Linked DNA regions of Homo sapiens. The protein of the gene in region 2 interacts with the protein of the main gene of each other region in a pairwise test. Each region holds a gene or a part of one and is shown on either strand. Other genes may lie near its edges. The genes, in order: USHBP1, LENG1, CCDC102B and NUTF2.

The links.
Region 1: the proteins of LENG1 (region 2) and USHBP1 interact in binary tests that used the Homo sapiens proteins (3 or more experiments, as listed by UniProt).
Region 3: the proteins of LENG1 (region 2) and CCDC102B interact in binary tests that used the Homo sapiens proteins (3 or more experiments, as listed by UniProt).
Region 4: the proteins of LENG1 (region 2) and NUTF2 interact in binary tests that used the Homo sapiens proteins (3 or more experiments, as listed by UniProt).

What each region holds. Positions count from the first base shown.
Region 1 is NC_000019.10:17,254,693-17,261,748, forward strand, and holds part of USHBP1 (harmonin-binding protein USHBP1), read right to left. Parts: intron 5,331-7,056; coding exon 5,205-5,330; intron 5,041-5,204; coding exon 4,904-5,040; intron 4,738-4,903; coding exon 4,597-4,737; intron 4,010-4,596; coding exon of another isoform or gene 3,904-4,009; exon of another isoform or gene 3,892-3,903; intron 3,781-3,891; exon of another isoform or gene 3,694-3,780; coding exon 3,520-3,693; intron 2,029-3,519; coding exon 1,779-2,028; intron 915-1,778; coding exon 693-914; intron 1-692.
Region 2 is NC_000019.10:54,156,668-54,164,451, forward strand, and holds the start of LENG1 (leukocyte receptor cluster member 1), read right to left. Parts: upstream 3,055-7,784; 5' UTR 3,029-3,054; coding exon 2,897-3,028; intron 1,795-2,896; coding exon 1,615-1,794; intron 359-1,614; coding exon 96-358; intron 1-95. Other genes in the region: voltage-gated chloride channel TMC4, read right to left, coding at 3,639-3,707, 3,800-3,878, 4,211-4,366, 4,463-4,593, 5,435-5,618, 6,006-6,103, 6,366-6,492, 7,057-7,220 and 1 more.
Region 3 is NC_000018.10:68,794,207-68,801,086, forward strand, and holds the start of CCDC102B (coiled-coil domain-containing protein 102B), read left to right. Parts: upstream 1-3,873; 5' UTR 3,874-3,975; intron 3,976-4,064; exon of another isoform or gene 4,065-4,246; intron 4,247-6,880. UniProt on the Homo sapiens protein: During interphase, forms fibers at the proximal ends of centrioles to maintain centrosome cohesion. During mitosis, dissociates from the centrosome following phosphorylation to allow centrosome separation. Contributes to CROCC/rootletin filament formation.
Region 4 is NC_000016.10:67,849,889-67,856,944, forward strand, and holds part of NUTF2 (nuclear transport factor 2), read left to right. Parts: intron 1-7,056. UniProt on the Homo sapiens protein: Mediates the import of GDP-bound RAN from the cytoplasm into the nucleus which is essential for the function of RAN in cargo receptor-mediated nucleocytoplasmic transport.

The DNA.
Region 1 (7,056 bases), about 37 Mb from region 2:
CCCAGGCTGGAGTGAAATGACATAATCGTGGCTCGCTGAAGCCTCCAACTCCGGGTTCAAGTGATCCTCCCACCTCAGCCACCCGAGTAGCTGGGACCACTGTGATAAGGGAAATAAATAACAGGAAACCGCATCTGAAGTCACTCCAGGAGGGCTTCCTTGAGGAGGTGATGTCTAAGCTGAGATCTACAGGAGGTCGAGGACTTTATGACACAAAGAGGGAAGTGACCGGTGTTCCTGGCAGGGACACAGAATATACAAAGGCTTGGAGGTAGGAGAGATGATTTAAAGAGCTGCATTAAGGACAGGTGCGGCGACTCATGCCTGTAATCTCAGCACTTTGGGAGGTGGAGGCAGGCGAAACATTTGAGGCCAGGAGTTCGAGAGCAGCCTGGCTAACATGGTGAACTGCAACTCTACAAAACTGCATCTCTACAAAACATACAAAAAATAGCTAGATGTGGTGGTGCGTGTCTGTAATCCCAGCTACTCAGGAGGCTGAGACAGGAGAATCTCTTGAACCTGGGAGGCGGAGGTTGTGGTGAGCCGAGATTGCAACATTGCATTCCAGCCTGGGCAACAAGAGCCAAACTCCGTCTCAAAAAAAACAAAAAAAAAAAGGCTGTGATTGACAAGGGCTATGTTCTCATTAGTAAGCTACTCCCCTACCAGGTTCAGGCAGGGCAGCTCACCTGATACCACTCTTCCTCGTCCCCGCTGCTGCCACCTCCGCTGCTATGTCCGCCACTGCTGTTTGCCCCACCAGCCTGGAGCTCTGCCCGTTCCCACCGCAGCTGCTCCAGCAGGAGCACGTGAGCTGGACCCAGGGCTCGGAGGGCAGCCTCCCGCAGCTCTAGGCCCCGCTTCTCACGCCGCACCAGCTGCAGCCGAAGCATCAGGTCCGCCAGGGCCTCCTGTGGGACCAAGGAGAGGGGAGAGAATTTATGCTTCTACGGTCAACTGCAGGGAAACTGAGGCCCCAAGAGGCACCCACTGAGGACTATTCAGACAAAAACTGTGACTTTTGGCCAGGCGCAGTGGCTCATGCCTGTAATCCCAGCACTTTGGGAGGCCAAAGTGGGTGGATTACCTGAGGTCAGGAGTTCGAGACGAGCCTGGCCAACATGGTGAAAACCCGTCTCCATTAAAAATACAAAAATTAGCCAGGTGTGGTGGTGCACACCCGTAATCCCAGCTACTTGGGAGGCTGAGGCAGGAGAATCACTTGAACCCGGCAGTGGGGCAGAGGCTGCAGTGAGCCAAGATAGCGCCACAGCACTCCAGCCTGGGTGAGAGCAAGACTCCGTCTCAAAAAACAAACAAACAAACAAACAAACTAGGACCTTCACCATTCACCATGTTCTTGTGAGGTGGAAATATCTTCCTCCCATAAAAGCTACAGCTGTAGAAATGGCATTTCCTAGAGGGGCAAGTAGCTTACATAGGTCAAGTATTAGTTCTGTCAAAGCTTCTGGAGTTTCTCTAACTCCAGAACCTCAAGTTTTTCATGCCAAGCTACAAACCCAAGATTGTGTTCTTTGCTCCCATCTCTTCCCATAGGAAGGGCATTTTGGAGAGCCAGATTTGTAGTCTAATGAGAAACTGAACCCCAGAAAACAAACTCCTATTAATCCCTCAAAACCCCAGCTCCAATTCTCCCTTCACAATGCCTGCACTCAGCCCAGCAGAATTCTCCTTTGCTCCTTGGTCCCCCGACCTCAGTAAAGGATTTTGTCCCACCAAGAAAGACTGACACAGTGGCCACAGCCCATTTGTACCCTTGCGGCCACCAGGTCCTGCTGAATTTGTGTCTTCTCCAGTCGGGGAAGAGCTGGGCCAGCCTGGGTCCCCAGAATGGCCTGCACCATGGCTTCTGCACGGGGCACAGTGGGCATGGGTGCCAAGGTGGGGCCAGGCTCTGAGAGAATCTTCATTAGAGAACGGCGCTCCTGGAGACGCTGGACATAGCTTCGGAGCTGGAAAGCCACTTCCTGTGGGGTGGGCTTATCCACACTGCTGCCTTCAGGGCTATAGAAAACAGAAAAGGTGCCTATGTCAACACTGGCAGGCATAGGTGGGTTAAGTTCATGCCAATCCTGGTAGGGTCCATCACCTTCCATCTCACTGGCCACGATGGAATCTATGCCATCTTTGGTGGTCCCTGTCACACCAACATACCCCACTAGGCACCACCTTCCATCAAGACCACATGGTGGCCAGGTGCGGTGATGCATGCCTGTAACCCCAGCACTTTGGGAGGCTGAGGTGGGAGGATTGCTTGAAGCCAGAAGTTTGAGACCAGCATAGGCAACAGAGTGAGAATCCGTCTTTTTTTTTTTTTTTTTTGAGACGCAGTCTTGCTCTGTCGCCCAGGCTGGAGTGCAGTGGCATAACCTCGGCTCACTGCAAGCTCCACCTCTCGGGTTCACGCCATTCTCCTGTCTCAGCCTCCCAAGAAGGTAGGACTACAGGCGCTTGCCACCACGCCCGGCTAATTTTTTTTTTTTTTTTTGGATTTTTAGTAGAGACGAGGTTTCACCGTGTTAGCCAGGATGGTCTCGATCTCCTGACCTTGTGATCTGCCCACCTCGGCCTCCCAAAGTGCTGGGATTACAGGCGTGAGCCACCGCGCCTGGCCGAGAATCCGTCTTCATAAAAAATTAGCTGCGGCCGGGCGCAGTGCCTAACGCCTGTAATCCCAGCACTTTGGGAGGCCGAGGCAAGTGGATCACCTGAGGTCAGGAGTTCGAGACCAGCCTGACCAATATGGAGAAACCCCGTCTCTACTAAAAATTCAAAATTAGCCGGGTGTGGTAGTGGGAGCCTGTAATCCCAGCTACTCGGGAGGCTGAGGCAGGAGAATCCCTTGAACCCGGGAGGCAGAGGTTGCAGTGAGCCGAGATCGGACCATTGGACTCTAGCCTGGGCGACAAAAGTGAAACTCTGTCTCAAAAAAAAAAAAAAAAAAAAAAAAGACAGGGTCTCACTCTGTCACCCAGGCTGGAGTGCAGTGGTGCAATCTCAGCTCACTGCAGCCTCCACCTCCCAGACTCAAGGCATCCTCCCACCTCAGCCTCCCAAGTAGCTGGTACTACGCGGGCACACCACCATGCCCAGCTAATTTGTTTGTAGTTTTGGTAGAGAAGGACTTTCGCCATGTTACAAGGGCTGGTCTTGAACTACTGAGCTCAAACGATCTGCCTGCCTCGGCCTCCCAAAGTGCTGGGATTACAGGCTTGAGCCACTGTGCCCGGCTGTGGGTGCCAGTTTTAACCAGTAGGCATTGTCATTCATCTTCATGCCAACTGCAATGTCTGTCAACCACCATGCCAACTTTGTCAAGTAGCAACAGGCCAACTGCAGTTGAGCCTCATGTCAACCAACTACAGTGAGCTCCATACCGACCTTGCTGGACACAGCCACACCAAGCCCCGAAACGTGGTGAGCTCTGGGAGCCCCATCCCCCAGTCAAGACCCCACTCCTCAACCAGGCCAGTTCCCAGGGTTCCAGGGGGGTACCTTGGCTGTGGATTCTGCTGTGCTCCTGCATCCATGGCAGCCTCCTCTTGTGCCAGCAGCCTCCATGCTTCCTTTTCAGCTGCTTGCAGGTCACTCATGGGGGCTTCGTCTCCTGCTCCTGAGTCGGCCTCCCGCAGAGCAAGCAGAACCCTGTATGCCTCTTCACAGTGTTCACTGTGGGACACTGGTTCTGAGTGCTTCAGGACACTCAGCTCGGCTGGGTGCAATGGCCCTCACCTGTAGTCCCAGCACTTTGGGAGGCTGAGGCGGGAGGATTACCTGAGGTCAGGAGTTCGAGACCAGCCTGACCAACATGGTGAAACCCCGTCTCTACTAAAAAGACAAAGATTAGCAAGGTGTGGTGGTACGCACCTGTAGTTCCAGCTACTCAGGAGGCTGAGGCAGGAGAATCACTTGAACTGGGGAGGCGGAGGTTGCAGTGAGCCAAGATGGCACCACTGCACTCCAGCCTGGGTGACAGAGCAAGACTCTGTCTCAAAAAAAAAAAAAAAAAGAAAGAAAAAAGAAAAAAAAATCCACTTAGCTACATCTTGCTCTATAGGTGCCAGTCCCCACTTGCTCCTGAACCCCTCTTCTCCCCACTGCCCTCAGCTCTGGAAGCATGCAGACTCCCTTAGCAACCCTGAACTAAAATTGCCTTAAGTTAATTTCTGGGCCAGGCAAGGTGGCTCACACCTGTAATCCCAGCACTTTAGGAGGCCCAGTAGGGGGGATCATGAGGTCAGGAGTTCGAGACTAGCCTGGCCAACATGGTGAAACCCATCTCTACTAAAAATACAAAAATTAGCTGGCTATGGTGGCATACACCTGTAATCCCAGCTACTCAGGAGGCTGAGACATGAGTATCATTTGAACCCAGGAGGCAGAGGTTGCAGTGAGCTGAGATCTCACCACTGCACTCCAGCCTGGGCAACACAGCGAGATTCTGTCTCAAAAAAAAAAATTAATTTCTGAAGTGGGGAAGGTGCTCTCCAGTGAGGGTTCTGTGGATTGGGGCCATCCTCAGAAAGCCCACTCCCTCCCCAGCTGGTGACATCACTGGCAGGGTGCACTGACCTGTACTGCAAGGCCAGATGCAATGCTGTGGCCTCAGCCTCCCGCTGGCCTAGCTGCATGCTGAGGCCTTCACAGCGGCCCTTGTATCCCTGTAGCACAGCTGATAGCAGACGATTAAAGCATTTGAGCTTCTCAATGCTCCTGTTCCCGAAGGTGGGGAAGAGGGAAAGTCAGAGGCCTTCTAAGGCAGTCAGGCCTCAATTTCCACCCTTTCCCTCCCTCCTGTTGCAGCTTCAGACTCCTGGCTTTATAACTCAGTTGGAGGAGGTGCCTGTGCCCTTATGAGCTCAGCATTTGAGTCTCTTACCCCCGGAGTTGCTCCATCTGGGCTTCCATGATGTGCATCTCAGGACTGAGGGGCTGGTTGGGAAGAGACCCAAGGATCTGGGTGCTGGAATGGCTGCGGAGGCGCCGAAGCAGGGGGTGAGCCAGGGAGAAGGAGTCCTGCCAAGAAGAAGTGATATAACTGACCCCAATTGTCACCAAGAGCCTGGGATTGTAGGCATTTTGCAACCCCAAAGCTGTTGGATCCCATGACAAAGATTTGAGTCTCATTCCCCTGAAGGCTAAGGACATCAAGACCATGGGATTGAACTTCTCGCACTCACCTGAGTCTCCCAGGGTTCCCTGTCTGCCTCAGAGCTGCTAGAACCACTGCCTGAGCCACCTGCTTGGTTGTGGGAAAGATGTGGGCAGGGCTCCAGCCTCAAGAGGGAATCCTGCAGCTCTTGAACCTGGGAAAGATGAGGGGGACGTCAGGCCTAGGGGCTCAAACCAACCACCAGCCCTCTCTCCCCAAGGCCTGTTCTTGGGGAAGTGGCAAGAACCCTAGCTGGAAGGCAAGAGGCTTGGATACTTAGCCTGCCAAAAATCTCACTATCTGACCTTGGGAATGTTTCTCAGCTGCTGAGGATTTTATTTTTCCCAGCAGAAAAATGGGCCCCACTCTGGGGAAAAATGAATCCCTGGACTGGGCTCCAAAGTTTTTCTACCAGCCTAAGATGAGGGCTTCCCTCTCAATATCTCATTCAGCCACATGGCTTTTTTATTTTTATTTTTGAGATGGAGTCTTGCTCTGTTACCTAGGCTGGAGTGCAGTGGCACAGTCTCAGCTCACTGCAACCTCTGCCTCCCGGATTCAAGTGATTCTCCTGCTTCAGCCTCCCGAGTAGCTGGGATTACAGGCATCTGCCACCATGCCTGACAAATATTTGTATTTTCAGTAGAGATGGGGTTTCACCATGTTGACCAGGCTGGTCTTGAACTCCTGACCTCAAGTGATCTTCCTGACTCAGCCTCCCAAAGTGCTGGGATTACAGGCATGAGACAATGCACCCAGCAGCCACATGGCTTTAAATGCCACCTGTGTGCTAAGGATGCTCAAGTTTCTCCCTTCTGCCCTGCTGTCTCCTCTGAGCCCTGGACTCAGACATATAGCTGCTCCCTTGAGGACCCCACGTGGATGTCTCATGGACACTTGAGCTTATCAAGGGCTAAAGAGATCTGGTCACCCCCAGCCAAACCTGCCTACCCTGTAGCTCCTCCATCTCTCCCTTCTAGTCCAGCAGGTCCCAAAGCCTGAAGTTGTCCTTGACTTCTCTCTAGCCTTCACGCTCACACGTCAGTTCCATCTGCCACATCACCCAGAATCCGTCCGCATCTCTCCACTTCTACAACCTCCACCATCGTGCATGTCTGGACCAATGAAGTCGCCTCCTGGCTCTCCAGGAGTCCACCCTCACCTCCGCCACCAGAGGGCGCCTGTGAACACCTGCGTCGAGCATGCCCCTCCTCTGCTCAAAACCCTCCAGGGCTCTCACCTTAATCCAAGCAAAGCCCAAGCGTCTCCTTGCAGCCCACGAGGCCCTACGCGATCTGCATTTGTTCTCCCTCTGTTCTGTTCTGGCTCCCCACACTCTCCCTGTTGCCCCCTGTGTTCCAGCCACACTGGCCTCCTTCGGGTTTCTTGAACAGGCCAGTCATGCTGCCACTCCAGGGCCTACTCCCACCACCCTCAGTTTTCTTTCTTTTTCTTTCTTTCTTTCTTTCTTTTTTTTTTTTTTTTGAGAAAGAGTTTTCTTCTGTCGCCCAGGCTGGAGTGCAATGGCGGGATCTCGGCTCACTGCAAGCTCCGCCTCCCGGGTTCACGCCATTCTCCTGCCTCAGCCTCCGGAGTAGCTGGGACTACAGGCACCCGCCACCACGCCGGCTAATTTTTTGTATTTTTAGTAGAGACGGGTTTTCACCGTGTTAGCCAGGATGGTCTCGATCTCCTGACCTCGTGATCTGTGCCTCGGCCTCCCAAAGTGCTGGGATTACAGGCGTGAGCCACCGTGCCCAGCATTATTATTATTTTTTTTTTTTTTTGAGACAGAGTCTCACTCCGTCACCCAGGCTGGAGTGCAGTGGTGAAATCTCGGCTCACTGCAACCTCCACCTCCTGGGATCAGGCGATTCTCG
Region 2 (7,784 bases):
GGCTGTCCTGACCAGAGACGCTGCAGTGCCCATGCTGGGCTGCTGCCAAGCCCTGAAGGTCTGGGCCCTGGTCTGCCGAGGTGGGGTCTTCTTACTCCTTGGGTCGCTGCTTCTCAGACCCCTCCTTTTCCTTTCTGCTGCGACTGCCTTCATCACCGCCGTGCTGTCTCTTCTTCCCCAGATGCTTCTGCATCTCCCGCAGAGGGTCCAGACGGCTCTTGATCTTCTCATCTGGGGCTGGGCCGGGCGGGGGGCCCCCTCGCCCTGGGGGTAGCTGGTACCAAGGGGGTTGAGTCTGTGCCTCCGCTGCACTCTGGCCCAGGTATGTCAGGATGCCCAGAGCTTTCTCTTGCCTCTCCTGAGGGGGCCAGGAAATACAAGAGATGTGATATAATCTTTCAAGGTGTCAGGTGTGTCTCCCTGACACAGGTATCTAAGCGAACAGGTATCTAAGGCTTGTTATGAACCAGTTGGACCAGGTGCTGGGGATGGAAGACAAACAGAGGCAAAGCTCCCCCTGGGGGGACAGTAGCAGGTACAGTAACAGCAGGGGAAGGAGGGGACAAGTGGAGCCACTTGAGTGTTCAGAGGCAGGCATCTTTGCAGAGAGACTTGAAGAGAAGCCTGAAGGGATCAAGCAAAGCAGAGGAGCGATGGGTGGGGTCAGCAAGTCCAGAGACAGCAGATAAATGACAAGAGCTGATGTACCTCTTTTTTTTGAGATGGAGTCTCGCTCTGTTGCCCAGACTCGAGTGCAGTGGCACGATCTCGGCTCACTGCAACCTCTGCTTCCCAGGTTCAAGCAATCCTCCTACCTCAGCCCCCCGAGTAGCTGGGATTACAGGCACACACCACCATGCCCAGCTAATTTTTGTATTTTTAGTAGAGACGGGGTTTTGCCATGTTTGGCCAGGCTGGTCTTGAACTTCTGACCTCAGGTGATCCACCCACGTTGGCCTCCCAAAGTGCTGGGATTACAGGCGTGAGCCACCATGCACAGCCACTGATGTACCTTTTACACTTGATCTTAGCCAAAAAGCAAGAGGCGATTGATTCACTTTTTGTTTGATTGTTTTGAGATGGGGTCTCGCTCTGTCACCCAGGCTGGAGTGCAGTGGCGCAATCTCGGCTTACTGCAGCTTCCACCTCCTGGGTCAAGCGATTCTCCTGCTTCAGCCTCCCTGGGATTACAGGCGCGCACCACCATGCCCGGCTAATTTTTTTTGTATTTTTAGAGATACCATGTTGACCAGGCTGGTCTTGAACTCCTGACCTCAGGTGATCCACCCGCCTCAGCCTCCCAAGGTGGTGGGATTACAGGCGTGAGCCACAGCCGGCTGATTTAAATTTTTAAAAGCCCATCAGGTTTGAGACTCCTCCAGTTTGGAGAACTGAGCGGTTTGCCCAGCAGCTGGGGACCTCTAGCATCTACCTCCAACCCCTGTGGGCGCCCAGACGGCAATAGCCAACGCTTTTTGAGTGTCATGCCTTGGTATGGTCCTAAATTCTGTGTGTTCACTCTTGTTTGACCTTGGTCACAACCAATGGCTAAAGTGCCCCCTCCCTCCAACTCGATTCATGGCCCCTCTGATGAAGTGGGTGAGGCCAGCTTACTTTCTCCTGTCGCTTTTCTTCCTTGTACTCTTTATTGCCTCTGATCACTCCTTTCCCTTCCTCCAGCAGCTCCCGAAACAGGTCCACAGGGCCAGAACCTGGGGCTCCCGCCTCTGCTGCTTCAAGCTCAGGCAGTGAGTTCTGATGTCTGGCTTTCTTCCGTAGGAATTCTGTACGGGCCTGGGGAGAAAGTTATAGGCAGGACATTCAGAACCTAGAGGTAATTCAAGAACTGTGAGTCTGGTGCCCACCACAGAAAATGGCAGTCCAGGGTGCTGGGGTTATGAGAAAGGGAGCACTAGGCGCCTAAAAGAGGCACCTGTCCTAGCTGGGGGTGAGGGTAGGCAGATGAGGCAACGCCTGGGTTTTGTAAACTCCCTTTCAAATAGTAAACCACGGGTCATCAAGGATGTATGGGAGGAGGTCCCTGGCCTAAACCAAAGGGGTTCCTAACCTCAAGTGAGACAATTAAAACAGCCATAAAGGTATGCATTAGGCCAGACGATCTGAATTCTAGCCATGGCTCCAAGTGACTACCCCAAGTCTGCTGAAGCCCTGTCCCCTGCCTTCAGGACGCGGATTTCAAACAGCGCTCAGCAGCCTACTGAGATTCTAAAAACCTAGACTACCTCCCACCCACGGCGGAGGATCAGACTAGCTAAGGAAATGAAAGTTGGGTGTACACCAAACAGATTTAAAGAGCCATACGGAAAGCCCGTGTTTGTGTGTATGTGTCTAGGGGGCGGTGCACGAAAGGGCTCGCCCGATGGCGTGGAGCCTGGCTGTCCGCCTCTCCTTAAAATGTGCCTTCCCCTCACTGAAGCCATCTCACTTCGTGCAACAGAGATGACAGTGCCCCTCTAAGAACGAACAGTGCTTATTGGGGATTCCGCAAGTCAGGTGCACGGCATGTAGTTAGCATACAGTAGATGCTCAATAAATAGGCTGTGCAGGCAAACTAAAAAGTGATCCGAATTTCCTTGAACTGTCCAAGGGTTCACGGATTCATTAAATGTTAAGCTTCTCTTTTGTGCTAGACACTGTTCCAGCCATGTGAAATACATCAGTGGGGGAAAAACTAAGACGAGGGCGAGATCAAGGAAGGTTTCGTGGAAGTGGGCACAAGGTTTGCGGGGCAACGTCCTCGAAAGTGGGATCGGCGCCTGGTCCCGAATTTCACACGGGGCACATTGAGCCTGCGCAACGCCTCCGCTTCCGGCCCCCAACCGCGGCGCCTGCGCGCTGGGCCCCGGAGCGCCGCCCTGCCGGCTTCCGAGCTTACCTCTTGCTGAGCCAGCAGCACCCTCCGCTCACGCTCCTTCTCCTCCTCCCGGGCCTGGGCCTCGTCACGCCGCACGCGGGCGACATTGTCCTTGTTCCGGACGTGCCAGCTCTTCTTGGGCAAGATATTCATGGCGTCGTAGCTGTCCAGGGACTGGCACGCCCGCCTCTTTGCACTTCCGATTGGCGAGAGGATGCCCCCCTTTTTCTTGTCCCTACTTCGACCGCGGATTGGTTCCGAATTAGTTGGTACGGCCCCCTGGCCTGTAGCGACAGGTGATTGGCTGAGACGCCCTTTATCACAGCGAATGCTAGGCGTTCGGCTCGTGGTATCCCCTAGCAACCGCCTCTTGTCACAGATCTGAACCAATCATAAGTTGGCCCGCCCCTGATGCTACCAGATGCGGCCGTCGATTGGCCGACATGACCGACAAGTCTCCTTGCGGAAGAGCGCTCTGCACCGACAAACATGCCCGTACATTTGATTGGCTCCTGCCCCGCTGTAGCCCTGCCCCCACCTTCAGGACGCAGATTTCAAAGCGCGCTCAGCAACCTCGGCTGTATTTATTGATACAAGGAAGATCACCCGAGAGTCAGGGACGTGGCGGCGAGGGGCCCTGGAAATCTCCAGATACCAAAGCTGGAAGGGCGTGGAGTCTTCTCCAGTTCTCCTAGTTTACAGATGTTGTGACCTAGGCTTACAATGGGCCTGGGGTCTGAAAGCGGGACGTGGGCTGCGGGGGTCAAAGAGCCGGTTTGGTGGAGGTCAGCGCCACAGCGCGCCGTGCCAGGAAGACTTTATTCTGCGCCTCCTGGGGCAAAGAGAGGTGGAGGTGAGACAATCCTCTTCCCCAACCCCTTTCCATGTTCCCCAGGGGCCCTCTCAGGGACCCGCCTGGCTCACCGTCTCTCTCTGACGTTTGAGCTCAGAGATGAGGCGTCCGTAGGAGTTAGCCAGAGCCACAGTGTACGCCATCAGGATGCTGAAGGAGACAGGAACGGAAGCCACTCCTGACACGCTCTTCCATTATATCCAAACGTCTGGCTCCTTCGAAGCCAGGGATGTGGACGCCTAAGCCCCTCCTCGTCTGGGCTCAAGGAGTTCAGTCTCCCAGCCCCTCCGCCTTCAGATCCAGGAGTCCTACGTCCCGCCCACCTCCTCCTTCGGACCCAGCAGTCCAGGAGCCTAGGCCTCCTCCCTCAGACTCAGTACGTTGCCTGCTCCCACGCCCAAGCCTCTCCTCTCTTGGACGCAGGTGGTGGCCCCCAGATCACACGCATTCAAACCCAGACCCAGAAGTCTGGGCCGTCTCACCTGGAGATCAGCAGAAGGGGCACAGCAAAAGCCTGGGTCCCCAGGAAGAAGAGGAAATTCTGGGTGGTCTCAGGGAGGCTGGAAATAGACTCAGGGATCTGGGCCCAGATGGACGACTGCCCCCGGAATGGACCACACAGCTTAGAAGGCGGGATCCTGAAGTCAAGACAGGCTGGGCTCACATAGTGCCAGGAGTCTGAACACTGAATGGGGAGAGAGGGAGGGAGAGAGGCGGGAGCCTCTCGCACTTACAGGAAGATGCTGTAAAGCAGGGGAACGCTGGAGATGGCCAGACCCAGGAGAAGGACCAAGGGGAAAAAGAAATTCGCCGCGGAGGCCCGGAAGGTGCGGGCAGCCGGGGAGCAGGTGGAGAAGAGGGTAAGCTGGTGGGGGAAGGCACGGAGAAAAGGGCTCTGAAACACAAGAGTCTGTGCCTCCATTTTTTTTTTTTTTTTTTTTTGAGACAGAGTCTCGCTCTGTCGCCCAGGCTTTTTTTTTTGAGACAGAGTCTCGCTCTGTCGCCCAGGCTGGAGTGCAGTGGCTCTCACTGCAGCCTCCCCTCCCGGGTTCAAGCTATTCTCGTGTCTCAGCCTCCCGAGTAGCTGGGATTACAGGTGTGCACCACCACTCCCGGCTAATTTGTTTTGCTGTTGTTGTTGTTTGTTTGTTTTCTCTTTTTGAGACGGAGTCTCGCTCTGTCGCCCAGGCTGGAGTGCAGTGGCACGATCTTGGCTCACTTCGACCTTCACCTCCCTGGTTCAAGCAATTCCCCTGCCTCAGCCTCCTGAGTAGCTGGGATTACAGGCGCCTGCCACTAAGCCCGGCTAATTTTTTTTGTATTTTTAGTAGAGACGGGGTTTTGCCATGTTAGCCAGGCTGGTCTCAAACTCCTGACCTCAGGTGATCCACCCGCCTTAGTCTCCCGAAGTGCTGGGATTACAGGCGTGAGCCACTGCACCCGGCCTACCTGCCTCTCCTTTTTTCCGAACCAGGAGTCTGAGCCCCTTCCTCATCTAGGACCCCGGAGTCTGAGTCCCCAGATCCTCAGACATATAAGTCAGAATGCCCTAGACCCCTCCTCTCAGATGCAGTAGTCTGTCCTCCAACCCCCTCCTCTCTCAGGACCGAGTAATCCAGGCCCCCAGGATCTTCCTTGCCCTTGACCCAGGAGTGCGGGCCCCAATACCTCCTGCCTCAGACCCAAGGGTCCCCCCTACCCCTTACCTTCTTCAGGTAGAAAAGCAGCAGGAACTTGACCGTGTTAAGCAGGGGCAGTAAAGGGCAGAAAAAACTCCCCACCCAGACCACCGTCTGCGCGTAGATGAGCCCCAGCACCTCGTCGGGCACCTGGAACTCTTGGGTCCCCGCCAGACGACCCAGCGCCCCAGGACAGAGGCCACAGAGGAGCCTGAAGGACGGGGCGGGGCCGGGCCGGAGTCAGGGGAGTGGCGGCCTGGAGTTTCCACGCCTCCACCGCCCCGCCCGCCAATAGGAAGCATGCGTATTGGTGGTGGGGGGGGGGGGGGCGGGACTTTCAGGACTCCACGTGGAGGGGGTGTGTCCAGAGGGCGGGTCCTGAGGACTAGAAGGGACCCAGATGTCGCCGCCGTCGGGGCCAGAGGGAAGTAACCCACTAAAACAAGGGCGGGGAGCGGGGAGATCTGCGGACCTAGGGCAAGCAAAGGGAGCAGGCAGAGGCGGGAATGGTAAAAAGGTGCGCGGTGAAAAGAACAGCGCGATGGGGCACGGCCTCGTCCTAGAGGGGCGGGGCCACAGCAAGGGGCGGGGCTCTCACTTTCTAGGAAACTGGATGAGCAGCGCGACTGCCAAGACAGTCAGCAGATCAAAGAGCAGAAGTTTGTACATTTCCTGGCCCAGGACAGTCTCCCAGCACTGAAGAAGGAAGAAATATATCAGAAAGAACTCGGGACCCGGGCACCTGGAGGCCCACGCGTCCGAGTCTCCACATCGCAAGCCTATGAGACCCTGTCAATACTTTCTCTGGGGGTCCTCGTTTTTCAAACTTTCATACCCTTGGGAGAGTGTTCCAGCACCCCAAGCTCCCCTCTCCGCCCAAACCAAGAGTCTGGACCCACCCAGCTCCATCTTTCCTTCAGGGACCCAAGAGTCCCACGCACACCCATGCCGTTCTCACCGGAAGTTGTTTGTAATTGTAGCCACAGGTTTTGCAGTCCTCAGCCTCGGAGTCGCCCCCACAAGTGATCTGATTCCAGAGAGAGAAGAGCAGGACCACCAGGGAGGCGAGGCGAAGAAACACGGTCCTGAAGGGGGGAAGGCAGAGAATGGGCCCTGACCCGGTACCCACCATGTGGCAGTTCCCTTCTCAGTGGAACGCGCCCGCATTCAACCCATCTCACAGATGAAGCTGAGGCCCAGTGACAGAATCAGGATTTCTTTCTTTCTTTCTTTCTTTTTTTTTTTTTTTTTTTTGAGACAGGGTCTCACTCTGTCACCCGGACTGGAGTGCAGTGGCGCGATCTCAGCTCACTGCAACCTCCACCTCCCAGGCTCGAGCCATTCTCCTGCCTCAGCCTCCCGAGTAGCTGGGACTACAGAAGCCACTACCGCCGGGCTAATATTCGTATTTTTACTACAGACGGGGTTTCATCATGTTTGTCAGGCTGGTCTCGAACTCCTGACCTCAGCCTCGGCCTCCCAAAGTGCTGGGATTACAGGTGTGAGCCACTGCACCTGGCCAACAGAGTCAGGATTTGAATCCCTGGATTCGGTATCAGCAGGATTTCCGTGTCTTACCTGTCAGCGCCAACATCCCTCTGACCGCCCCCACCCTTCATCATTCCCAGCCATCCCCGTGAGGCTGGAACCTGAGCAGGATAAAAACGATCTGGCGACTCCGAGTGTAGCCCTCCAGTGGAGCAATGAGCTTGAACACGGGCGGCAGCACAAAATTGACCCCAGCGATGAAGATGGACGGAAGGTAATTCACCCCAAGCTTCAGCAGTGGCAACTCCTGGACAAGGGGCATCTCCTGGGAGCGGGATGGACCATGAGTAGAGGCTTGGGGTCCTGGAGGAGCCAAGCTTAAGGTCCTCCCCCCGGCCTCTTCTTCTTCTTCTTCTTTTTTTTTTTTTTTGAGACAGAGTCTCGCTCTGTTACCCAGCCTAGAATGCAGCGGTGCGATCTCGGCTCGCTGCAACCTCTGCCTCCCGGGTTCAAGTGATTCTCCTGCCTCAGCCTCCTGAGTAGCTGGGATTACAGGCGCCCACCACCACGCCCGTCTAATTTTTGTATTTTTAGTAGAGACTGTTTTTCACCATGTTGGTCAGGCTGGTCTGGAACTCCTGACATCGTGATCCGCCCGCCTCAGCCTCCCAAAGTGCTGGGATTACAGGTGTAAGCCACCGCGCCCAGCCTCTCTTTTTCCTTTAAAATCCCTAAGTCCAGGGTCCGAACATACCCTCTCCCATACTTCCTCTCTAAGATCTCTGGCATCCCAAACTTCCGTCCCCTCCCTCCACCGTTGGAAATGTAGGTTCCAGGACCCCCTGGCTTCCTCTTCCAAGACCGTCCGCACCTGCAGCTCCACGGTGCA
Region 3 (6,880 bases), on a different chromosome or scaffold from region 2:
CTTGCATCTGAATCATGACTTCACCAGCTTATTATCATTTAAGAATAGCTTCCCCATCTCCAGCCTCCTTGTCTTGTTCAAGGAATGAAAAAAGAGAAAGAAGTCAACAGACTGGCATTAGAAATACAAAAGTTTTCTAAACCCATTAGATTTCCACTTATGTTTCATTGGCAAAACTGCACCACACAGCCAAATATATTTGTATGGGAGGCTTGGTAACATAGGCTTCAAAAAAAATGACCACATTGTTGCTCCAAACAAAAATAAAAAATTGTTTTGTAGGGAGGAAAGGGAGAAAGGATACTGGGTAGGTAAATATCAGAACCCACAGGGTGGATGTAATATGTAGAATGAAACTGGAATCCACTAAAAAAAAATAGCCTTCATTGATGTGTGCTGAGTACCTCAAGACATTATAAACTTGCCAACAAATTTTGGAAACCTCACGGCTGAATTTTTCTCGTCTCTTTATCATATGCCCCCAAGTGATTGTTATATGATATGGAGTGTTAGGATAATGGAGGTGTGTGTGCACAGGGGTATTATAACCATGGTGTCGATGTACCCTTTGAAACTAGGATGGAGACCATAGATAACTTTGTTTTTTATTCTGAGAGGTCCCATGCTATCAATGAACAAATAATTTGTGAGGCAGACTTGGCAATAAGGATGAAGTAGGACACCTTCTCCATTTTCTGACCCTAATGGTTGTGGCCTGTGTGGGGCAAAAAGAGCCTTCACATGAGAAAGCTGCAAGTAAGACAGTGCCCTCCATATATAGTCAGATTTTACTGGTCATTAATTTGTAAACTCGCCAGTAAAAAAAAAAAAAAAAAATGTTGTGGTAAGACAAAAACAAATGCAAAGATACAGAAGGAGATAAAGTGAAGAGAGAGGTTTCAGGTTTTAATGTAAAGACGGGTTATTAAATTTGAATGGTGAAGAAGAGTAAGAACTTAGGAATAGCAAAGAGATTTCTAGATTGAGAGACTGGATGGGGCTAGATTGAGATTACAAGATACAGTAGAGTCTTCGGAAGAAATATAAGAGCTTTGATGATTGGAGATTATTGAAAGATTTAAATGGCTCCTAGTGAATATTTCATTAGACTTTGGAAATACAGATCTGAAGCTTTAGAAACTATTAAGGAAAGGCCATATATATTTCAGAATTATATGTCTATTAGTTCACTAGGGCTGCTGTAACAAATATCACAAGTTTGTGGCTTAAAACAATTGATCTCATAGTTCTGAAGGACAGAAGTCCAAAATCAAGATGTCAGTCAGCAATACTCTTTTGAAAGCCCTAGGGAAGAACCCTTTTTTGACTCTTCCTAATTTTGGTGATGGTTGGCAATCCTTGGTTTGTAGACCTATCACTCCAATTGCTGTCTCTGTCTCTCTCACAACATTCTCCCCTGTGCGTTTTGTCTAAATTTCCCTCTTCTTATGAGGATACAAGTCCTTGGAATATGGTTCCCCCTCACCCAGTATGGCCTCAGTGTAACCTGATTACATCTTCAAAGACCGTATTTCCAAATAATCATCTTCATAGGTACAGGAAGTTAGGATTTCAATATATCTTCTTAGAGGACACAATTCAACTCACCAAATATGTGTGGCAAAAGAAGCCTCAAAAACAGATGTGCTTACCTAGACAGAAATGTGAAATAAGAATAGGACCAATGATGGCCTCTTGAAGGTGTTCCACCATTGAAAGGAAAGAAAAGTAATAAGAGAGGGGATAAAAGTATGACATGGTCAGAAAGATGAAAACATAATCTAGAAAAGTTGTGGTTTAGAAGCCAAGAAAAGCCAATGTATTATGAAGAAGGGAGTTGACAAAAAGATTAAAAAACCTTCATGGACTTCAAGTGCATAAGTACCGGAAATAGACTACTGTATCTTTTTAAAGATGGAGCAGAAGAAAGCTGGGAGAAGAAAGACAATTTAAGAGACAGAGAGACACTGCAGTGATCTAGAAAGATCATGATGGTTGTCTGAACCAGAGTAGTGGCAGTGAGAAAAGAAGACTGGGCAAATTATTGAAGTATAATCAAAAGGAACTAGTGCTGGATTTGATATAGAATAGAAGGAGTCAAGGATGACTTCCAGAATTTTTCTTTGGGAAACTGTAAAACTGGGTTGACATTTACATAGATAACACAGCAGGTCCATGGAGAGATGATGATTTCAGTTTAGATAAGCTGATGCCATATCTGTGTAATTTTCTAGTTGAGGGGTATAGTGGGCTGACAAATATGAGTATTGAAAATTCAGACAGTCATTGGGTCTAAAAGTAGATATTTGGGAGTCATCTAAAAAGAAAGATGGTAATTTAAACTATGAGGATGGGTGGCTTTATCCAGAGAGAGAATATACCATTTATATGTAGATTTATCTAAGAACATATGTGATGCACACCAAAGGATGGATGGAGGATGAGGCATCATCAAAGAGGGTGAGAAGGGCCAGCAAAAGAGGTCAAGAGGAAAACCAGGAGAGTGTTATGCCAAGACAAGAGATGTCTTCATGTGGGCAGGGTTGTGAACAGTATGAAAGGCTGTGTAGATGTCAACTAGAAGGATTGAGGTGAGTTAGAAAAATTAAAAATAAATAGAATATTTATGTACATGCATGTGTGTGTGTGTGTGTGTGTGTGTGTATTGTCACTTTGATGAATTAAAATCAGGTGGATGCAAGACTAAATAAAATTCTTGGCTGGAGAACTTTCAATCATTTGGCCATGACAGAAAGAATGGTACCTGAAAGTGAAAATGACTGAATTAAAAGTAAAGTTCATTGGCATACATGAAATTGACTAGAGAATGTATGGTATTTAACATCACGTGGGGAAAATCCGGACAGGAGGGAACGTTCAAAGATAGAGGAGAGAGAATCATGATTAAGTTTAGCTCGATGGGTCAATTGGCTTTATACAGGAAGATGGCCACCTTTTCCATTGCATCAGAAAGTAAGTGGGAAAAGAATGTTAAGTAGAGATAGATGATAACACCGTAATAAGCCTACAAATTAGGGAAGGGTGAAAAATAAAATAATTTGAAGACATTTATTGCCTAAATTTCAAATGTTGTTTTTTTGCTACTTAAAAGGAGCAAGGCTATCCTGTTACCTTTTGACTTTTCTTTTTTACTTTGGACATTTTTTTGCTGCTAGTTTCAACCAGAGAAGCTCTTTTTTATGTGATCTCTCGCCTCCCCCCTCAACCCCCATCAGAACACTTCCTGACAGCTGAGTCATGTCAATGGAAAGCTACTTCATATTCTTTTTCCCCAGGGAAAGGGGCCAGAGAGCTTTCACTGGGCACCCCGGGGACTACAGCTCACAATTCCTGCCAATGTGACCACAATCAAGGGTTTTGACATGCAGTTATTGTTTCATGATTTGTATACTCAAATCTTTTATTAAATATGATTTCTTTTGCTTTTGTGCAATCTAATGCAAATCAGATTGGATGAATATTTTATATTGTTCCTGTAATGTGCAGTATAATTTCCTTTTAAATATTTTTCAGATAGGTACTTCCTGGGCTTTTTTTTTTTTTTGCTTTGCTATTTTAGTTTTTCTATTATTATTACAAGTTATACTGTTGTAATTAAACATTAAGAACACTTGTGGATCAAGGCGTGGGTGTCTTTTTCTTTTTCATCCACAGTACAGGTTTCAAATGGTTGTATGGAAAGCTTTGGATAACCATACTTAGGGAACATTAAAAATGGTTTTATTTTGGTTGGCTCAATGGTGATCCAAAGAGGGGGTTGTGGTAGTGGTTTCAATAAAACTTCACAACCAATGGGAATCTTTTTTGAGTTTGTGTGGAGTGCCCTTAATGCTGGAAATAATCCTGTTGGCTAGGACTCCAGAACTGTACGGATGAGAAAAGGATGCAGGAAATTCTGTTGTTTACACATGTGGCTGCAACTGAGACACTGGAGCAGCCCAGCAAGCCCAGAGGGTAAGAGTGTTTAATAACCTTGTGGTTTTCTATTTAATTTTTATATTTTCCTGCTGAGGTACAGCATGTGTTGTTCTCAGAGCAAAGACAGTTGCTTACAAGATGCAGAGCAAAACTACTGTAGAGCTGGGAAGCAGAAGGATTTGGAGTTTCTTTTTAAAGTGATTCCTTCCTTTCCCCTTTCATTTTTCCACTGTGGGTGTTATTATCCTGACAATTTGTCATACATTTCCTGTCTTTAAAAAATAACTGTATACTAAGCAAAACTCAGGTAAGAATTTCGACTCTACATTTAGACAGTAATAGTATATGTTGATATTAAAATTTTGTTTCATTGTTCCAAATGAATGTGAATTAGTCATTGTGTTTGAAGTAATCTATATTCTTACAGTAAAAAAGTAAAATTGTTATGGAAATCCTCCTATCTATGCCTCATGTACCTTGAATTCTTTTCAATTGTTGAGTCTTCATGCTAAATTCTTGTATTCGTTAATGGAAAGTATATTTCAAACTTAGCATGAATATTGATTTCTTTACATGCTACCTGTATAGTGTGGAGGAGACAGGGATACAGAATAAAATAATAAAATCCTGTGCATAATAAAAAGTAATGCTTAGCTATATAGAAGTAAATTATAAAACTGAAAAAAAATCTCTGGAAACCTTTGGGAAGCATTTGCTTACGTTTTCTGCAAAGATAAATTATCAATTGAATGTCAAGTGAGTACATTTATTAAATATAAATATAAGAAAGATTCGTCAAAAAATATAATTAGAAATATGTCAGTAACATAGGACCAAAATATATAAAATATTTATTGATATTCTTATTTACATCAATACCAGTTTTTCTGTTTTCTAAAATAATGTGAATGTGTTTTTGCTAATAATTTTCATGGGAAATGGTGTTATTACAACTTTTGAGTAAATATTCTCTTGTTAGTAAAATATGTTATTGCCAATAAATATTTTTATATATCCAGTAAATATTCTTGAATTCTATTTCATATTTTAATGAAAGCAATAAATTAGAAAGAAGATTTATAAGTTAGCGATACAATATCTGTGTAGGTTTGTGTGACCTATTTGAATATATTCAGAAAAATGCTTTATGTGAATTGCTTTATTTTCCAAAATATCCTATGTTCTTATGAAATCATAGATAATTTCATTGTCTCTCTTTTGCATCCTTCATATGTTATCATTGGATTCAATAATTGCTTGATCACTGGGACATTGTTTCTGGGCCTCACTATGGGTTTGGCTTCAAGGTAATTTATGAATGTTTCATCTAATTATTACAGTTACAAAACAATGGCTGTAATTCTTAAAATACAAGAAATGCTCTCAGGTCGTCATATCTCTTATGCTGATATTACAAGACCAATTGAATTCTGCCATAATGCCAAAATATTCAGAAATTCCCTTTTTAGCAGGTATGTGAGTCCTAAAGAGATGCCAGAGGCTTTAAAGAAAAGTTCAACTTCTTGAACTTAGTCTTGAAAAACTAGTGGAACTTGGATAGGTGCTGAAAGCAAGAGGAATACTCTACTTTGAAGAAGTAATTGGCAAAAAGGGTTTTGAACACAAATTAGCATAGAGCATAAAAGAATGGTGAGTAATTTATCTGATTGGAGCAGAAAAAATATACCTTTGTGAGTATCAGACGTTGTACTCAATACATAGAACAGGAAAAATTGATAGAGCATCTTAACATTGCACACAGAAAAATGTGGCCTTTACATATCATACAAAGGGGACAATTGCAAGTTTCTGAAAAGAGGTGGAGTATCTGTGCCTCTTTTCATCATCTTTACCATAATCATCATCATCATCATTTTGCCAACACATAATAGCATTTTCTGCTTGCAAGGTGATTTACATACATATCCACAATTTTGATAGCTTTGCAAGAAAATGAACATTATTTTACACATTATTTTCATTTTGCACTTGAAGGAACCTGCTGTTCAGAAACGTTCAATGATTTGCTTAAAGCCACAGATAAAGAAAGTGAGGGAACCAGAATTTCAAATAATGTCTTTCTGGCTCCAGAGCTATTTCCACGATGTTGTGCTGGTATTCTAGGAATGTGAATCTGGCAGAAGTCGAGCAGAATGGTTTGAAGTGGACACTGGGATTTTAGGGTGCAGGGAGGAGGTCGTGAGACAACAGCCCAAAGATCCATTCCGATATTCTATAAATCCAGACGAATTACTGTTCTATCAGTTGGGCCACACTTTTCCTTTGGGAATTGAGAGAAGAGACTGACGCTGCAAATAAGGGGTAATTTTTACATTTAAATTAGCGGCCCTCAGATTCAACACTTATGCTTTTCTCTCTCTTACATTTTCTTAAATCTACTTAGAGAAGGTATCTTTTGCATTCTCAAAGAAAATGTCATCACTGATTTGCACTGAATATTACCTATTCACAAATGAGATGTGTGAGGTGGCCAGGAATAACACTGGGGATGTACTGACTTTCCTCTGTTTCTTTTTGATACATGGTATCAACGAACACTCAGCGACCAAATACTCTTAAAACTATGGAATGACCAAGTTATTATCAAATAAAGGCATTGTATAAGTTTCATTTCAATAGGTGAAAAGCATAAATAAAATTCACATTGTAATAGATAGTGTGAAATACAGTACATTCACAGTAAAAAAGAATAGAACTTATTTATTAACATGTTTTCCTTCATATATCCAAACCTTAAAGACATTACTTCTTCTCAAAGTAGAACTAGTATCTGGGATAACATTCATTTTCTTCTTCTTTTTTTTCAATGAAATAAAAATTATAGCTTATTTCATAACAACGAGGTTTTTTTGTTCAATGTATACATGATGGTAACTATGCTATCATTTTATGAACATACTGCCTACTAGTTTAGAATCAT
Region 4 (7,056 bases), on a different chromosome or scaffold from region 2:
ACCTCGTGATCCGCCCGTCTCGGCCTCCCAAAGTGCCGGGATTCCAGGCGTGAGCCACCACGTCCGGCCTTATTTTTATTTTTTGCAGTGATGTCATCTCCATATGTTGCCCAGGCTGGTCTCAAACTCCTGAGTTCAAGCGATACTCCCACCTCAGCCTCCCAAAGTGCTGGGATTACAGATGTGAACAATTGCCCAGTGATCACAAGGGTTTTCTTCAGGGACAAAAAGATACTTTTCCTTCTCCAACGTTACTCAAGAGTAGGAGGAATTCAGGTCCCTCCCTCTCATTCCAACCTCTAGAAGTTCCCTGTAACTTCTTTTTTTTTTTTTTGAGATGGAGTCGTACTCTGTCTCACAGGCTGGAGTGCAGTGGCGCGATCTCGGCTCACTGCAAGCTCCGCCTCCCGGGTTCACGCCATTCTCCTGCCTCAGCCTCCCGAGTAGCTGGGACTATAGGCACCCGCCACCACGCCCGGCTAATTTTTTGTGTGTTTTTAGTAGAGACAGGGTTTCACCATGTCAGCCAGGATGGTCTCGATCTCCTGACCTCGTGATCCACCCGCCTTGGCCTCCCAAAGTGCTGGGATTACAGGCGTGAGCCACCGCGCCTGGCCGTTCCCTGTAACCTCTTTGTCTGAGGTCAGCTAGCCATTGCTAGGCATCCTGATCCTGAGAATTCGTTAAATGTTTCTGGAACTTGGCGGGCCATCTAGGTCTCAGATATAAGAGAAGTGGCCTGAGGTTCTCCAGGATCTATCTGCATCCTCTATTCATGTAGGGCTGACTTGGAAGTGGGACCTGGCATGCGGTGGTTGGGATATTGCCGCACAAGGATGAGGCAGGATACAAGATGCCTCAGTTCTCAATTAGCTCAAAATTATGTCCCTTCGTGTATAGGAGCCTATCTGCCTATCACTATTTTTTTTTGAGACAGAGCCTCGCTCTGTTGCCCAGGCTGGAGTGCAGTGGTGCAATCTCAGCTCACTGCAACCTCCGCCTCCTGGGTTCAAGCAATTCTCCTGCCTCAGCCACCCGAGTAGCTGAGATTACAGGTGCCCACCACCACACCCAGCTAATTTTTGTATTCTTAGTAGAGATGGGGTTTCACCATATTGGCCAGGCTAGTCTTGAACTCCTGACCTCAAGTGACCCACTCGCCTTGGCTGCCCAAAGTGCTAGGATTACAGGTGTGAGCCACCGCACCTGGCCGAGCCCATCTCTTCTCTCTGAGCCATGTCTTGTTTTATTCCGTTGCCTTTGGAGTTGGTGGTTTGGGAGGGGAATAATTACTTAAGAGAGACACAGAATAGGCAGGGTGCGGTGGCTCATGCCTGTAATCCCAGCACTTTGGGAGGGCGAGGTGGGCGGATCACGAGGTTAGGAGTTGGAGACCAGCTTGGCCAATATAGTGAAACTCTGTTTCTATTAAAAATACAAAAATTAGCTGAGCATGGTGGCAGGTGCCTGTAATCCCAGCTACTTGGGAGGCTGAGGCAGGAGAATCGCTTGAACCAGGGAGGCGGACGTTGCAGTGAGCCAAGATTGTGCCACTGCACTGCAGCCTGGTGACAGAGTGAGACCCTGTCTCAAAAAACAAGGGAGACCAGAATTTTGTTTTTTTTATTATTATTATACTTTAAGTTCTAGGGTACATGTGTACAACTTGCAGTTTTGTTACATATGTATACATAACGCCATGTTGATGTGCTGCACCCATTAACTCGTCATTTACATTAGGTGTATCTCCTAATGCTATCCCTCCCCGCTACCCCCGCCCCAGGACAGGCCCCGGTGTGTGATGTTTCCACCCTGGAGACACAGAATTTTCAAATTTCAGAACAAGTCTGGGCGCAGTGGCTCACGCCTGTAATCCCAGCACTTTGGGAGGCTGAGGTGGGTGGATTACTTGAGGTCAGGAGTTCAAAACCAGCCTTACCAACATGGAAAAACCCTGTCTCTACTAAAAATATGAAAATTAGCTGAGCGTGGTGGTGCATGCCTGTAATCCCAGCTACTCAGGAGGCTGAGGCAGGAGACTCGCTTGAACCTGGGAGGCGGAGCTTGCAGTGAGCTGAGACTGTGCCATTGCGCTCCAGCCTGGGCAACAACAGCGAAACTCCATCTTGAAAAAAAAAAATTCATAACTAGAAGCCACCTTATATCAAAAATTCTAGGATTCAGCACCAGCTCTGAAGCTGGAGCATTGCTTGAGGCCAGGAGTTCAAAACTAGCCTTGTCAACATAGCAATACCCATTTCTACAAAAGAAAAATAAAAAAATAGCCAGTGTGGTTGTGGTGTTGTATACCTGTAGTTCCAGCTGCTCAAGAGGCTGCAGGAGGTCAAGGAACCGTGAGCTATGATCATGCCACTGCACTGTAGCCTGGGGACACTCTAGCAAGACCCTGTCTCCAAAAAAAAGGCTAGGTTTCCCTTAACAAAACACTATTATCTTTTTTTCTTTTTTTTTTTTTTTCACCCAGGCTGGAGTGAAGTGTCACTCTTGCCCAGGCTCAAGTGCAGTGTCGCAGTCTCGGCTCACTGCAACCCCCGCCCTCCGGGTTCAAGCAATTCTCCTGTGTCAACCTTCCGAGTGGCTGGGATTATACCCGCCTGCCGGTATAATCCGGCTAATTTTAATATTTCTAGTAGAGATGGGGTTTTGCCATGTTGGCCAGGCTGGTCTCAAACTCCTGACCTCAGGCGATCCGCCCACCTCAGCTTCCCAAAGTGCTGGGATTATAAGCTTGAGCCACCATGCCTGGCCTTTTTTTCTTTATTTTATTTCTTTATTTTTTTATTTTTTGAGACAGAGTTTCGCTCTTATTGCCCAGGCTGGAGTGCAATGGCGTGATCTCGGCTCACTGCAACCTCTGCCTCCTGGGTTCTAGCGATTCTCTTGCCTCAGCCTCCCTAGTAGCTGGGATTACAGGCATGTGCCACCACGCCTGGCTAATTTTGTATTTTTAGTAGAGATGGGGTTTCTCCATGTTGGTCAGGCTGGTCTCGAACTCCCGACCTCACTCAGGTGATCCACCCACCTTGGCCTCCCAAAGTGCTGGGATTACAGGCATGAGCCACCGCTCCCGGCCCTTTTTTTCTTTCTTTTTAAAGTTTTTCTTAGGGTACATCAGCAGCCTTTTTATTTTATTTTATTTTATTTTAATGAGATAAGGTCTCACTCTTTTACCAACAGTGAGACCCTGTCTTTAAAATAAATTAAATAAATAGAAACCAGCCAGGTATGGTGGTGGGTGCCTGTAGTCCCAGCTACTTGGGAGGTGAGGCAAGAGGATCACTTCAGCCCAGAAGTTCAAGTCTGCAGTGAGCTGTGATTGTGGCACTGCTAAAGTGCAGTTGGTGCCATCTCAGGTCACTGCAGCCTTGACCTCCTGGGCTCAAGCAGTCCTCCCACCTCAGCCTCCTGAGTAGCTGGGACTACAGGTGCGCACCATCACGCTTGGCTAATTATTATTATTATTTCTGAGACGGAGTCTCACTCTGTCTCCCAGGCTGGAGTGCAGTGGCACGATCTCGGCTCACAGCATCCTCCACCTTCTGGGTTCAAGAGATTCTCCTGCCTTAGCCTCCCAAGTAGTTGGGACTACTGGCTCCTGCCACCATGCTTGGCTAATTTTTGTATTTTTAGTAGAGACAGGGTTTCATCATATTGGCCAGGCTGGTCTCGAACTCCTGACTTTGTGATCTGCCCACTCAGCCTTCCAAAGTGCTGGGATTCCAGGCATGAGCCATTGTGCCTGGCCACACCTGCTAATTTTTATATTCTATTTTTTAGTTTTTGTGGAGACAAAAGTCTCACTATCTTGCCCAGGCTGGTCTTGAACTCTGGGCTCAAGCAATCCTCCTGCCTCAGCCTCCCAAAGTCCTGGGATTACAGATGTGAGCCACTGTGCCCAGCCAAGTTTTACAACTTCTTGTAGAGACGGGATCTCACTGTGTTGCCCAGGCTGGTCTCAGAACTCTTGAGCTCAGGTGATCCTCCTGCCTCAACCTCCCAAGTACTGGGATTATAGGGAACAGCCACCACGCCTGGCCTGTTGTGCATGGCCTTCTTTTTGAGATGGAGTTTCGCTCTGTCACCTAGGCTAGAGTGCAGTAGCATGATCTCAGCTCACTACAGCCTCTGCCTTCCAGGTTCAAGCAATTCTCCTGCCTCAGCCTCTCAAGTAGCTGGGACTACAGGCACGCGCCACCACGCCCAGCTAAATTTTGTATTTTTAGTAAAGATGGGGTTTCACCATGTTGGTTAGGATGATCTTGATCTCTTGAACTCTTGGTCTGCCCGCCTTGGCCTCCCAAAATGCTGGGATTACAGGCGTGAGCCACTGCTTGCCTGGCCTGTGCGAGGCCTTCTAGTCCCCTGCTTGGAGCATGGGTTTGTGGCTTCTCCTCCTTTCACTGAGACCCTCCTATGGTCACTTTAAGTGCCCAATAGTTGTTCCTGTGGTGGTACCCATCAGGGCATCTTCCCAGGCACCAGACAGGAATTCTCCACAGAGGTGGGAGGTTCAGCAGACCTGGTCAGGGAGGCTCCTTGGATGTTCCTTCAACAGATGGCCCTTGCCTGGGGGCTTACAGAGGGAAACAGGAGACAGCAGGGACTTTGGAAATACCAATAGCGCTTGTTTTAGAATCCAATTCAGACCATTTTCGTTGAGGCCTCCAGGACAGAGGAATAGTCCTTTTGGGGCAAGGGGAGTGAATCCTAAAAGTTTTCCACAGAATAGACATTGAAAGTTGGGCATGATTTCTTGGCCGGGCACAGAGGCTCACACCTGTAATCCCAGCACTTTGGGAGGCCAAGGTGGGTGGATCATCTGAGGTCAGGAGTTTGAGACCAACCTGGCCAATATGGCAAAACCCCGTCTCTACCAAGATTCCAAAAAATTAGCAGGGCATGGTGGCAGGTACCTGTAATCCCAGCTACACGGGAGGCAAGAGAATTGCTTGAACCTGGGAGGCGGAGGTTGCGGTGAGCCAAGATCGCGCCACTGCACTCCAGCCTGGGCGACAAAGGGAGATCTCTGTCTTTAAAAAAAAAAGTTGGGCAGGATTTCTTTAAGCTGAGGTTGAGCCGAACCTTGTGCTGGGTGCTGGTTTGTTTTTTTTTTTAATTAATGTTTTGATAGGGCATTTGAGAATGATGTTTGTGTGTTTGCAGTTCAGTTTGAGTTGGCTACCCCTTTCCTGGCTTTGTGATTCTGTGATTCTCTCTTCCTTTGATCATATATGGCAGGAATTCTTGAGTCCCTCCCTCGGGGAGCCAGCAGTGTATGGATTATCCTTGGAGTGACTTAGGTCATGTGATATTATTCACCCTCTTTTTCCTCACCCTATCAGCTGGAGTGTGCCCTCCTGGGCAGAATGCTTTGCTTGGGTCTGGGTTTGGCTGGGAACGTGTCTTAGTGGCCAAGGGAGAGGGACACGAGGCCCAGGGTGGCCTGCCTAGGGGCCACAGGGCTCCTACTGCTGGCTGACCAGTGGCCAAGAACTTCTTTTCATTGTCTGGGGCGTTACTCATTTGTTGCTGTACCTGCTGTGTGCCAGCTCCTTAAGCCCCCAGGCTGGAGACAGGGCTGCTATGGGGATAGGGAACCCTTATTAGAGAGGGGTTTCTGGGGTACCTGGGAACTGAGGGCTGTTTGTCCCAGTGTCCTCAGTAAACTGGGGGAATTTTGGAATGTTTGTTTCTTAAAGTCTCGAATGATTCCATCAGAGCCAGTGGGTCTCCCGAGGGCAGAAACTGGAAAGCTTGCTGCCCCAGGAAAGAGCTCTGTGTGGAGATACTGGTTCCACTTGCAGGTGGTTTCAGGACTAGGAGAATGCAAATTCTCAGTTGTCCTAAGGTGTAAAGCTGCTTTGACCTGCTGAGTAGGTGCTCAGGTTCTTCCATTCTGAGGCTCCATGGAGCTTGCTGATTTCATAGGGGAAGACAAGGCCTGGGCTGCATTCCTTGCCACCCGATTTTTTTTTGGCGGGGGGGGGGGATGGGGGAAATGAGAATAACTTTATTTCATTGCGGGGAGTGGGCAGATGTCCAGCCTCAGAACTTCTGGAACTGCTTCTTGGTGCCAGCGGCCTTGGTGACCTTGAGCACGTTGAAGCGTACTGTCTTGCTCAGGGGCCGGCACTCACCCACTGTTACGATGTGGCCAATCTGGACGTCCCTGAAGAAGGTGGACAGGTGTATGGACATGTTCTTGTAACACCTGATTTTGTCACTTAGGTGCTTTCTGCTACTCCACATTGGCTCTCAGCTGTTTGCATCTCGGCCAGTTTTTTTTTGTTGTTGTTGTTTTTTGAGACAGTCTCGCTCTGTCGCCTAGGCTGGAGTGCCGTGGTGTGATCTCAGCTCACTGCAACCTCCACCTCCCAGGTTCAAGCAATTCTCTGCCTCAGCCTCCTGAGTAGCTGGGATTACAGGCACCCACCACCACGCCTGGCAAATTTTTATATTTTTAATAGAGACAGGGTTTCACCATCTTGGCCAGGCTGGTCTTGAATTCCTGACTTCATGATCCACCTGCCTCGGCCTCCCAAAGTGCTGGGATTACAGGCGTGAGCCACCATCCCTGGCCCAGTTTTTTTTTTTTTTTGCTTTTGTTTTCCTTTTTGAGTCGGAGTTTTGCTCTCGTTGCCCAGGCTGGAGTGCAGTGGCGTGATCCTGGCTCACTGCAACCTCTGCCTCCTGGGTTCAAGCAATTATCCTGCCTCAGCATGCGGAGTAGCTGGGATTACAGGCGCCTGCCACCACACATGGCCAATTTTTTGTATTTTTTATAGGGATGGGGTTTCATCATGTTGGCCAGGCTGGTCTCAAACTCCTGACCTTAGGTGATCTACTTGCCTTGGCCTCCCAAAGTGCTGGGTTTACAGGCATGAGCCACTGTGCCCGGCCCCATCTCGGCCAGTTTTGTGGACATTCTAATGCTGGCTATGCCAGTGGCCTTTTGTGGTCTTAAATTCTTTCTTAACCTCTTGGAGTCTTTGTTTCCTTGTCTATAAAGTGAAGATAATCATACCAGCTTCACAG